Linked DNA regions of Homo sapiens: region 2 is linked to region 1. The links come from fine-mapping of genetic effects on gene expression. A gene starts in region 1. The other region holds a variant in brackets. All regions are shown on one strand. Distances are from middle to middle.

What was found. PIP is the estimated chance that this variant, and not a neighbour inherited with it, causes the effect.
Region 2: its variant is the best candidate, but not a certain one, in a credible set for the expression of WNT6 in skeletal muscle (FUSION, PIP 0.76).

Annotation. Positions count from the first base shown.
Region 1 is chr2:218,857,154-218,862,523 of GRCh38, reverse strand. WNT6 (Wnt family member 6) reads right to left here and starts at 2,719. Exons shown (of 4, transcript NM_006522.4): 1 at 2,407-2,719. The coding sequence starts at 2,486.
Region 2 is chr2:218,832,953-218,838,322 of GRCh38, reverse strand. No RefSeq gene overlaps it. Among named protein-coding and RNA genes, the nearest start is that of PRKAG3, 3.8 kb to the right of the region's middle. The variant C/T (reference allele first, on the strand shown) is at 3,047.

The DNA.
Region 1 (5,370 bases):
AAATTCAAAAACTAGCCAGGCATGGTGGTGGGTGCCTGTAGTCCCAGCTACTTGGGAAGCTGAAGCAGGAGAATCACTTGAACCGGGGAGACAGAGGTTGCCATGAGCCAAGATCGCACCACTGCACTCCAGCCTGGGCGACAGAACGAGACTCTGCTCTAAATAAATAAATAAATAAAAATAGAAATAAAGAAAGAAAAACAAAATGAATAGACAAAGGAGAGTGAAGGGGCCAAGGCAGGGAGGAGAGGCTCATTCCCTCAGAGGCACATCTGAGCAAGGCAGTCAGACACGTTATCACTGGGACCCCTCACTCCTCACCCGGCACGCCCTGCAGCTGTGGCCATGAAGGCCTCTGTGTTCTCCCACACCTGCCCGTGTCACCTCCTCCCCCACTCCCTTCTTCCCAGCTTCAGGGTCAGTCTCTCAGGGACCAGGCCACTCTCCTTTGGCTTGGCTGCCACCCAGCAGTCCTTCCTGAACAAAGGAAGCCCCACAGATACAGAGCCCAGAAAGGTGAATCAGCCAGTCCAATGACACTCTGCAAGCCCATCTCCAGCACCAACACACTCCTAGGCCTCAGGGCTCCTAAAGACAAGGTATCTGCCTTCCAGGAGCAGGGAAGAGAGACCTAAAGGACTGTTGTCAGCCAAATGCAGTAACCAGCATAGTTGCCCAATGTATGTGATACAGTGGGAGCGCAGAGAAGGCAATGGAAGGAGGACAAGGGGGCAGCTTCAGGGAGGAAATGGTATTTTAACCGTAAGGATAAGAATGATTTAGACAGAGGGGGAGGGAGGGGAAGGAAGACAATGGCCATCAGGGAGGGACCCCATCCCCACACCTTGAAAAAGGGCAAAGTTAGGCGTTTATGGGGAAAAGAGATTCCTTTACAACATTTTCCTTGGAACTCTGGATTTTAAATGTAAATGAATCCCCTTTTTCACTCCTGGGGACCCTGGCCAGGAGAAGCTGGGTTGTGAGGGGGGCGCTGTACATACTGAGTACCTCCTAAGGTCCTATTATTCTACACGTCCTCCCACCTAACCTTCCCAGCAAGCCTGCCAGGTAGGGAGACTGTTATCCTATTTCCAGTTAAGACTGAGAGGTAGGGAAAGGAAGTGACTAGCCCAAGATCACAAACATAATGTTTAGATCTTAGATCTATCTGCTTCAAAGCTGCCACTGCATTATACTAAGCCGGATCAAAGGGCATATGTTCCCTAGATAGGACCTGGGTCGTCCTCGGTTCGCCCTTTCCGTGACACTAGCGTCGGACGGCTCTCCGCATCACGGAGTAGGGATTGCTGCCCGCCACTCCCTGTGTGGGCATCCTACTCCCTATCTCTCCAGAGCACGGGGATCTGCCTCTCTTCCAAATCTGGGGGGCGAGGGAGGAGCGGAGGGTCGGCATCCAGCCAATCACATGGCAATATGCAAATAGACACGACCCTGCCTTCTTAGGATTGGCTAACCCGTCAGCGTTATTGTCCAAGTCTCTCCTCTCTAAACACTGAGCTATTCCGGGCGAGGGTTTGCGGCTCTGGAGACCTAGGGGGAAAAAAGTCCTTTGGATCTGGATCTCTGAGCCGTCCCGGTCGGGCACCCTCCTTCCCCGCCCCGGCCCCACCCCCACCCCCAAGGCTCGAAGCTCCCGCAACCTTCGCTGCCTAGGTGTCCCTTCTAGCTAGGGCCAAGCCTGGGAAGACGCCCCCTTCCCTTGGCTGGCCAGGCCCCTCTCCCTTCCCGCAGGACCCCTCCCGGTCCCGTATCTCCCGGGCTGCACATATTTTTTCATTCATGACCCCCAGGTCTGGAAGGGCCGGGCGCCTGGGTCCGGTTCCTTCCGCTCCTCCTTTTCCTTGCTTGGGGAGGACGAGGTAGAGAAAACCAGGGTCCTGACTCACTTTCCCCTTTATATTCCCTCTGTCGTCACTAAGGCCCACTCCTCAGGAGCCCAGAGAGAAGCCGGTGGGTTGGTAGGCAAAGCAGGGCGGGGAAGGGGCAGCTGTGTGGCCCTCTCTGCCTTGTGGCTTCCCACCTTGTTCCTGTCTTCTCCAAATCCAGCCCCATACCCTGAATCCAGGGCCCTCCTCACACATTCTTTTCCTCGGATATGTGTCTTCCCGAAAGATCTTTCCTACCCACTCGCCTGTTCCTTGGTGAGCTGGGTGAGCGCATAACTTGGCGGGGGGTGGGAGAGAACCCGGGAGGAGGAAACACAATAGAATGTTCCCGAGGGTTAGGAACGTCGAAGTGGAGTTCAGAAACGCCCCCGGCCGAGGCCAGAAAGCTGGGCTCGGAGAGCAGGTAGAGCCGGGAGGCTGCGGAACACCCCAGTCTGTCCTGGGTCCCGGGGTCCCCACCCTCCAGGGTCCAGAGCCGCGCCAGGACAGCCGGACTCACCACCACAGTCCGCCGACGTGCGCCGGGCACAGGAGCAGCAGCAGCAGCAGCCCGAGGCGGGAGGGTAAGGGCGGCAGCATCGTGACCGCCCTACGGCCGCCCGGGTGGGCAGGGGGCGAGGCTGCGGGGCGAACCGCGGCGCGCGAGGGCCCGGGCTTCAGTGCGAGCGCGGCGAGCGCAACGGCGGCGGCCGGGAGGCGAGGGATCCGGCGGCGGCGGGGGGGCCCATCCCGGGCGAGGAGGGCGCGGCGGAGGCGGAGAGCGGACGGGGCAGCCAGCGCCTGTGTCTCCTGCGGAGCTCGCTCGGGAGAAGAAATCAGAGCCGGGGGCGGAGGTGGGAGGGGAGCGGGGCCGAGGCGGGGGCGGGGGGCAGGGGGCCGGAGGGAGGTGGCAGTTGCGACAGTCAGGCAGCGGGACTCTCGGGAGCGAGCCGTGCGCCCCGGGGCGGCTGGCGCGGAGCGCAGCGGAGGGCGGGAGCGGGGTGCCGGGGCGGGGCCCCAGCGCGCTTCGGGCTGTGGGACCCGCCCGCTTCGCCCCCTCGCCTCGCCTCTCTCGGACTTGGAGCCCCCCGCCGCTCGCGGCCGCCTGGAGTCGGGGGCAAGGAAGGGCTGGGAAGAAGAGTAGAGAGGGGTGAGGGGGGAGAAAGAGGAGCTGAGGAATGGGGGACGGGCTGGAAGGGAGACGTTTGACAGGTTTGTTGACTGTAAAGAGAGAAAACTTCCCAGGAATGAGGGAGTTTGGGGCGGGGGGCGGTGCGGAGGGAGATGCTGGCGCGGAGGCAAGAGAGGAAGTTGGCCTGGGGCGCGGGGTGCTTCGGCGAGGGTTGTCAAACTGGACCGCCCGACAGGCGGATGCTGGAGGGGTCATCTCTTTCCGTGTCCCTGTTCGATGCCTCATGCCCCTTCGTCAGCCTCTCCTTGAAGAAGGGAGGAAGCCCTGGGCCTCCGCTCTCGCTCCCCCAGCCATCCCACCTCTCAAGCCCGCGTTCTAGGGCGGGGAGGTGGGGGAAATGAGAGGGCAAGAGTAGCCGCTCCAGGGCGTGCGCGCAAGCGCTGGCACTTGTAAGCGAGCGGGAGAATGGAGGTCGCAGACTTTCAAGAGATCGAGGGGTCAGAATTCGCTTTAGCCCGGCCTCGCGTGTCCAAGAGTCCCTGCCTCGAGTTCCTCCCCCAACCTGGCCCGGGTAGAAGGGGTGGGAGAGCCAGCTGCAGGTGAGATGGCGTTTATCAGATTTTCTAATGCCACAAAAATGTCTTTGATGCCCCTGGCCCCCTCCCCACGAGGGGGAGATCAAAGGCTCCGTGGGGAAGAGGGACAGCTCCATTCATCATGCCATTCGGCTGGCAGTGGGCAGCAGCCCCTGCCCCTCCCGTCCCCGACGTGCCCCGGGGTGCCAAGGGACAGGTGGTGTGGGACATTCTCCCTGCCATACCATCAAGAGCAACCATCAACCTTTAAAGCTGTCCTGGAGTGGGGAGGACAGATCGAGTCCCTATGGCAGAAACGTCAGGCGCCCAGAAGAAAGCTCCTGGTTGTTGGTAGAGAGGGGGACCTGAATGTGGGGACTGAGGTCGCTTCCAAGAGAGTGATGACTGAGGTCACTTCCAAACAACCTTGGTGAGCAGAGAGAGAAGACAAGATCCTGAGTCACCCAGAGAGGGGGGACAAGTAGATCAAGATGAGGCCAAGGGGCCAAGGGATGTGACCCCAGGGGAGGAGGCTGATGGGGGAAGGAATGAGCAGACAGAGGTGAGAGAACTGGAGAAGTGTGGACTTGCCGGCAAGCAAGCTCCATGTCAGGGCCCTGGTGTCCAGGCTGCATCAGCTCAATCCCTTGCACTGGATACAGAGAGTTCTGGTGAAAGGGCTAGGACACACTAAAGAAGGGGAAGGGGGCAGGGGGCAGTGGCAAGAGTCATAGAGAGAGGGTCTGGTCTAAGCACTGCCCTCTCCCATTTTAGCCTTTAACAGTATCCAAAGGCCACGCACAGCCCCTGCACCTAGTAACTTTGCACACAGTTGCTGTTTCTACGGGGCAATGCCAATCTGGACAGTTCCTAAAGGTCAATGCCAACTCTGGACACTACACATTCAAAGACATACCCAGTTTGGGTGCACACTCCAGCCATGTGGTACCAAATAGGCAGCTAGAGGGCTCTGGGGGTCCCTGGAGGCTACAGGTGGCCAGTGGCCAGCCTCCTGGGAGCCACTGTCTGGGTTCCGAACCCCCTGCCCAGCCCTGCTCCCACCCTGCTACTGTTATTGCAGATTATGAAATGCTCTCCCTATCCTGCATTCTTCTCCGAGGCAAGAATTTTAATGTATTTGTCTTTGTCATCAGGGGACCTGGGCTCTGAGACCGCCCTGCCTCTGCCTGAGGAGGGAGCGCCCCAAATCTAGTCCCTGCTGCCTCCAGACCCAGCCTCTCTCCATTACCACCCCTCCCCCATGCCCTAGCCCTGCCCCTCGCCTCCCCTTCCTAAGACACAGTCTCTCTGTGGGGTGGATAAAAATGATGTTATTGAAACAACAGAATTGGGAGCAGTGGCAGGGAGCAGGGATCAGCTCAGGAAACTGGGGCGTTTGCCAAGAAGCCTTCTCCCCCGCAGGCGGCCTTTCTGCCCCCACCCCCCACCTTTCCTGCAAACATACACAGCTGGCCCCACCCCTCCTGCAGCACTCACTCTAGCCAGATCTTGCAGAATCTTTTGCCATCTCTGGACTCCCCAAGCCCTTGTCCCTCCTGCACTCAGTCCCATTCCAGAATCAGTTGGCCCAGTAGTGCCTGCAGAGCATTATAGGGTTGGGGGGTCGGGGGGAGGTGGGCTGGAATCTGTGACAGGCAGGACTCCTGGAGTCCCAATTCCTAGGGCTTCTGCCCCAACAGCACCCTTTTGCTCACTCTCCTTTGCCCTCTCCGCATCCCCATCAAGGGGCTGGCTGGCATCTGGGCAGAGCCAGAGT
Region 2 (5,370 bases), 24 kb after region 1:
TTTTTCCAGCTGCTTTCAAATTTTTTTCGCTCTTTGGTTTCTGCATTTTTCACTGCAATGTTTCTAGGTATGGTTTCTTCTCATTTATCCCCCTATGGATTCATAGGCTTCTCAGAGATAGACATTGTTATTTTTCATCAGTTCCAGAAAACCTCAGCTAATCTCTTCAAATAGTGCTCTGCCCCATCCTCTCTCTACTCTCCTTCTGGGATTCTATTTAAATATATTTTAGACTTTCCTCCTCTGACTTCTATGTCTCTTATTCTCTTTCATTGTCTTTTATATTTTTTAATCTCCCTGTATTACATTCCAGGTAAATTCTTCTGACCTAATGTTCAGTTTTCTTTTCAGCTTTATCTAGTCTGTCATTAAATTCATCTATTAAGTTTTTACCTTCATTTCTGTATTTTTCATTTCTAGAAGTTCTATTCACTTTTTTTCAAATCTGCCATGCTGCTTTTTATAGTTTCCTACTTGCTCCCTACTTTTTCAAACTTATCTTATTTATTTAAACATAGTAAACATATTGTTACATATAACGTGTCTGATAATGCCGATTTCTGAGGTTTTCATGGGTCTTTCCTGCTAGCTGTCTTTCTGCTGGTTCTTGCTCATGGTTCCTAGTTTCCTTGTGTACCTGTTATCTTCAAGAATGTGTTGGGTACTATTGGAATAATTTGTGACCTTGGAAGATGATAACTTTCTTCAGAGACTTTCATATTTGCTTCTGCCAGGCACCTGAGATCATTACTGGTTCTTAAACCAAGTTCAAGGTTTGATACTCTCTGGACATTCAGATGAGGAACACTTTGACTATAAATCCATGTAAGTTTGCTTCTGGATTACACTCACTCTGAGGTTGTGGTTTTTTGAGATCCCAGCTTTCTATATACGGGGTCTCTTATCATACTCTCAACTTGTGTGGGTCCTGGGCCCTTATCACCCCATGTGGTTCTCGCTAGAACTGGCAAATGCCCTTGAACAAAAATCACTTCTTTTCTTATGAGCTTCACTGTGTGCCCATTTTCCTTTCAGTTAGGCCTAGTAAGTCTTTGCTATCTTGTCTTTTCAGTGCTTTTAAGAAGATGCTCTTTATATTTTATCTAGCATTTTAAGCTGTTTTTAGTGGAAGATATTTTCTGAATAACATAGCCTGCCAAAACTCTCAAATATTATTTAAGCAAAGTGTATTATTCCCTTTCCTCCCAGAAGACCTCACTTTTGAAACTCAAAGCCAGAAGATGCTCCTGTTTGCATTGTGTCATTTCTTCCCTAAGGCAATAAACTAAGTATCTTCCAAGATTAAGTGAGAAAGGGGCTACCGGATAACAGAAAGTGCCCTCCCCAATACGGATACTATCATGAAAGATTTTCTGCCACATGCCTAACATGCTTTCCAGGACATAGTTAGGGCTCAGTAAATAGTTTCTGTTGTCATGATTACTATTTCTATATCTAAACTCGCCTTGTTTAGGAAGCCTTCCTTTAATAACCTTGTCCCATTCTGATCTTTCATTTACTCTATTTTCTCCAAGTACTTTATTTATTTATTTATTATTTATTGAGACAGGGTCTCACTCTGTCACCCAGGCTGGAGTGCAGTGGTGCCATCTCGGCTCCCTGCACCCTCTACTGCCTGGGCTCAAGCGATTCTCCTTCCTCAGCCTCCCAAGTAGCTGGGACTTACAGGCACATGCCACCATACCTGGCTAATTATGTTTATTTTTTGTAAAGACAACGTCTTACTATGTTGCCCAGGCTAGTCTTGAACTCCTGGGCTCAAGCTATCCTCCTGCCTTGGCCTCCCAAAGTGCTGGGATTACAGGCGTGAGCCACCACGGCCAGCCTCTCCAAGTATTTTTTTACCCTCATTGATAGCTTATTGATTCACTCTAGCTGTTTTTCAAATATGCACTATTTCTCAGGAAAAAGCAATGACTGAACATCCCCCAGAAGTCTTTGAGGGTGTCTAAGTCCTCTGTTTCTTTATTTCTCTTATTTATTTATTTATTTGTTTTTGAGATGGAGTTTCACTCTTGTTGCCCAGACTGGAGTGCAGTGGCACGATCTCGGCTCACTGCAACCTCTGCCTCCCAGGTTCAAGTGATTCTCCCGACTCAGCCTCCCGAGTAGCTGGGACTACAGGCATGCATCACCATGCCCAGCTAATTTTTTGTATTTTTAGTAGAGATGGGGGTTTCACCATGTTGGCCAGACTGATTTCAAACTCCTGACCTCAGGTGATCTGCTCGCCTCAGCCTCCCAAAGTGCTGGGATTATAGGCATGAGCCGCTACGTCCGGCCAAGTCTTCTGTTTCTTTGTTAACTCTGATATCAATTAGAATTCTTTCAGCTGCAAGTGACAGAAGACTCAATTCAAACTGCATTAAGCAAAAAAAAAAAAACCATTCTATTGGTTCATGTAACTCAAAAACCAAGTGGTGGATCTTCAGGTACAGTTTGATCCAAGGACGCAATGAATGTCAGGAGAACCTGGTCTTTTTAGTCATAGTGGCTATTTTGCCTTTTGTTTTGGCTTCACCTTCAGGCAGCTCCACTCTGCATAGTAGCATCCAGAATCTCCACACTTACATCCTTACAGTTCCAAAGGCAGTGGGAAAGAGTTTCTAACTCCAGCAAAAGTCCCAGGATTCACCCCTATTGGACTAATTCTGTCAATGCCCACTTCACTGTGGCCAGAGGCATTTGGAGTGCTAATTGGCTACAACTGAACCAGAGGAATACTTCGTGGAACCCACAGTTGAGCCCTTCTGAAAATCATGTGCTGCAGGTGAATTGAGGGAATGTGGTTTCCTAAAGGAAAACCCAGAAGTTTGCCAAAAGATGGGGTAAATGGATACTGGGTATAGAAAAGCAACAACTGTCCACTACAATTCCCAATTGCTCACAGAAAAAGACTCAGTAATGGGGCCTGTGGCGCAGACTAAATTGCATTAACAAGGTGCTGGTTCTTTCCAGGTCCTTCAGACATTTGCACAGATGCTGCTCCGTCTAGCCACACACAAACAGGACAGAGCAGTTGTGT[C/T]CTGTGATGGATATGAAGGCTGCTCTCCCAGCCTCCCAACTGCTCTGGCCTAGGGGACCCTATTTGTGATTTATTCAGTAATGGGTCTCATCCAGGCTACTCTCTTGGCCTCCTCAAGCTGTTTTTCCTCCTCCTGATATAAAAATAACACTTAAACAGGTTCCCCAACCCCATGTCCGAGACAAATCAGATCTCCAGAGATAGCAGCCAAATTCACCCTAGGGTCAGGGTGCAGGGTCCTTATTATATACCCAGTCTGCGAGTGAGCCAAGAAGTAGGGTTTCCAGAAATATGATGCCATGGCCAGAGGCTAAAATCAATCACCCGAGGAGTATTTATTACCCAACTGAAGCCAGTACCTCCTGCTGATTTGCCCTGCCAGACGATGAGTGGAGGCAGGCTTGTGGTCAGAGCAGGGTGGAGATCTGAGAGGCGAAAGGCAGGTGTAGGGTGAGAGAAGGGGCAAGGCAGAGCTCTTCTTGAAAACTGTGAAGTTGCTATGCTTTTAGTGTTGAGCAGTGCTGGTGTGTACCCCCAGCTGGAGTCCTCCTCCACCCCAACCTTGACAGCAGCAGGAGATGGCTACTGAAGGGTCAGAGCCCTCCCGTGCCTGCCTGCCTGCCTGCCTGCCTTCAAAGCCTCATGGTTGGAGGTATAGAGGGGGCAGGTCTGTGTCTTCCATAAAGCTTAGTGGTTATAAATGTGGTGCCTGAGTCTGGGTTTGATTCTTGGCTCCATCCCACTAGCTTTGAGATTTTGATCAAGTTACTTAATCTATTTATGCCTTGGTTTTGTCATCTGTAAAATTGTAATAGTCAAAGTATTTCCCTCACAGGGTTGCAAGGGATTACACAGGACATGGCATATAATGTGTTTTGCACAGTGTGTAGTAGACACTAAGCACTGCACGAACATGCAGGGTCATTATCTACATATGTAATTCCTAATCCTACCTCAATCCTGCAACGTAGATGTATTAGTTAGAGAGAGGCTTGGCTGCTATAACAAAGGTTCAATTTGTCGATCGTTTAAACAAGACAGAAATTTATTTATCTCTAACATAACAATCCAGAGGTAGGCAGACCAGGACAGGGGTGGGGGATGTTCTATCATTTTCAAACTGCATTTTCCATCGTTGGGTTCAGTTTGCTGCTCCGGCTCCCATCATCGTATTGTAATTCTAGCCAGTAAGAAAGGGTTCCCTTTCCTCCTAGGGGTACCCTTCTATCATATAATATATATGTATATAACATTGCTGCTCAAATTTCATGGTCAAACTTAGTCATATGGCCATACTATCTGCAAAAGAAGCTGTGAAATATAATCTTGCATTCAGTTAAAATTGTAGTGGTTTACTAACAGCAGAAGAAGGGTAGAAGAGATATTGCTCTACTAGAGCTCACCCATCTGGCCATCCCACACAAAAAACACAGTTACTGCCCTTCAAAAGGAGGCAAGTCAGAGTTCCATCTGAGTACGGCACCCAGCTGAGAGTCCAGGCTATCTGAGGGGTGGGCAGTTCCTTCTTCCAGGTAGATGGACACCCTATGGTCTGGTGACCTAAAAACTAACAGGCAGGTGATTTGCACCTCCTACTCCCCACAGACAACAGTGGAGGAAGAAGAGGGTAAGCTCAATTAAAACACTGACTCATGCTGAGCACACTGCTACGCGCCTATAGTCCCAGCTACTGAGATAGGAGGATCATTGAGCCCAGGAGTTTGAGACTAGCGTGGACAACATAGTGAGACACTGTCTCAAAAAAAAAAATCCACTTGCAACTGAAAGAATGGCAAACACCCAGCAGCTGCTGGATCTTAATTATCAAATCTGGTTGGGCAGGAATGGCTAAGCCCTTTCCTGGCAGTGGAGTAAGTTCTTGGTCAGCACATTTGACCACCCCTGGTTCTGCTCTCTGGGAAGATCTCCCCTTTCCACTCTCCTATGTAGCCTCTGGCTTTTCCTGCTGGGAAGCTGTTGTTTATCCAATATCCTTTGTCCCACACTGGCAAACTTGTGCTTTCTGCAGTCCTTCCAGCCTTCACAGCCCTCTTCCTGCTGGTGCGGATTTGGAGGGCTGGGAATAAGGCAAGGGAAGGGGTGTCAAACCAGGCTTTGCTGATCAGGCTTATGGTTTCTTTGCCAATACAACACCCTCACAATCTTAGAAGCCTTCTGAGTGGCTCCATGTTTGAGTAACCACAGCCAATGGCCTCATGTAGACCTTATTTTTATGCTTGAACACTCTGGACTTGGTGTTCTTCCTACTCTCCTTTCTCTCAAACTGGTGGTGGCTATCTTGAGTCCATTTGAAAAAACATGCT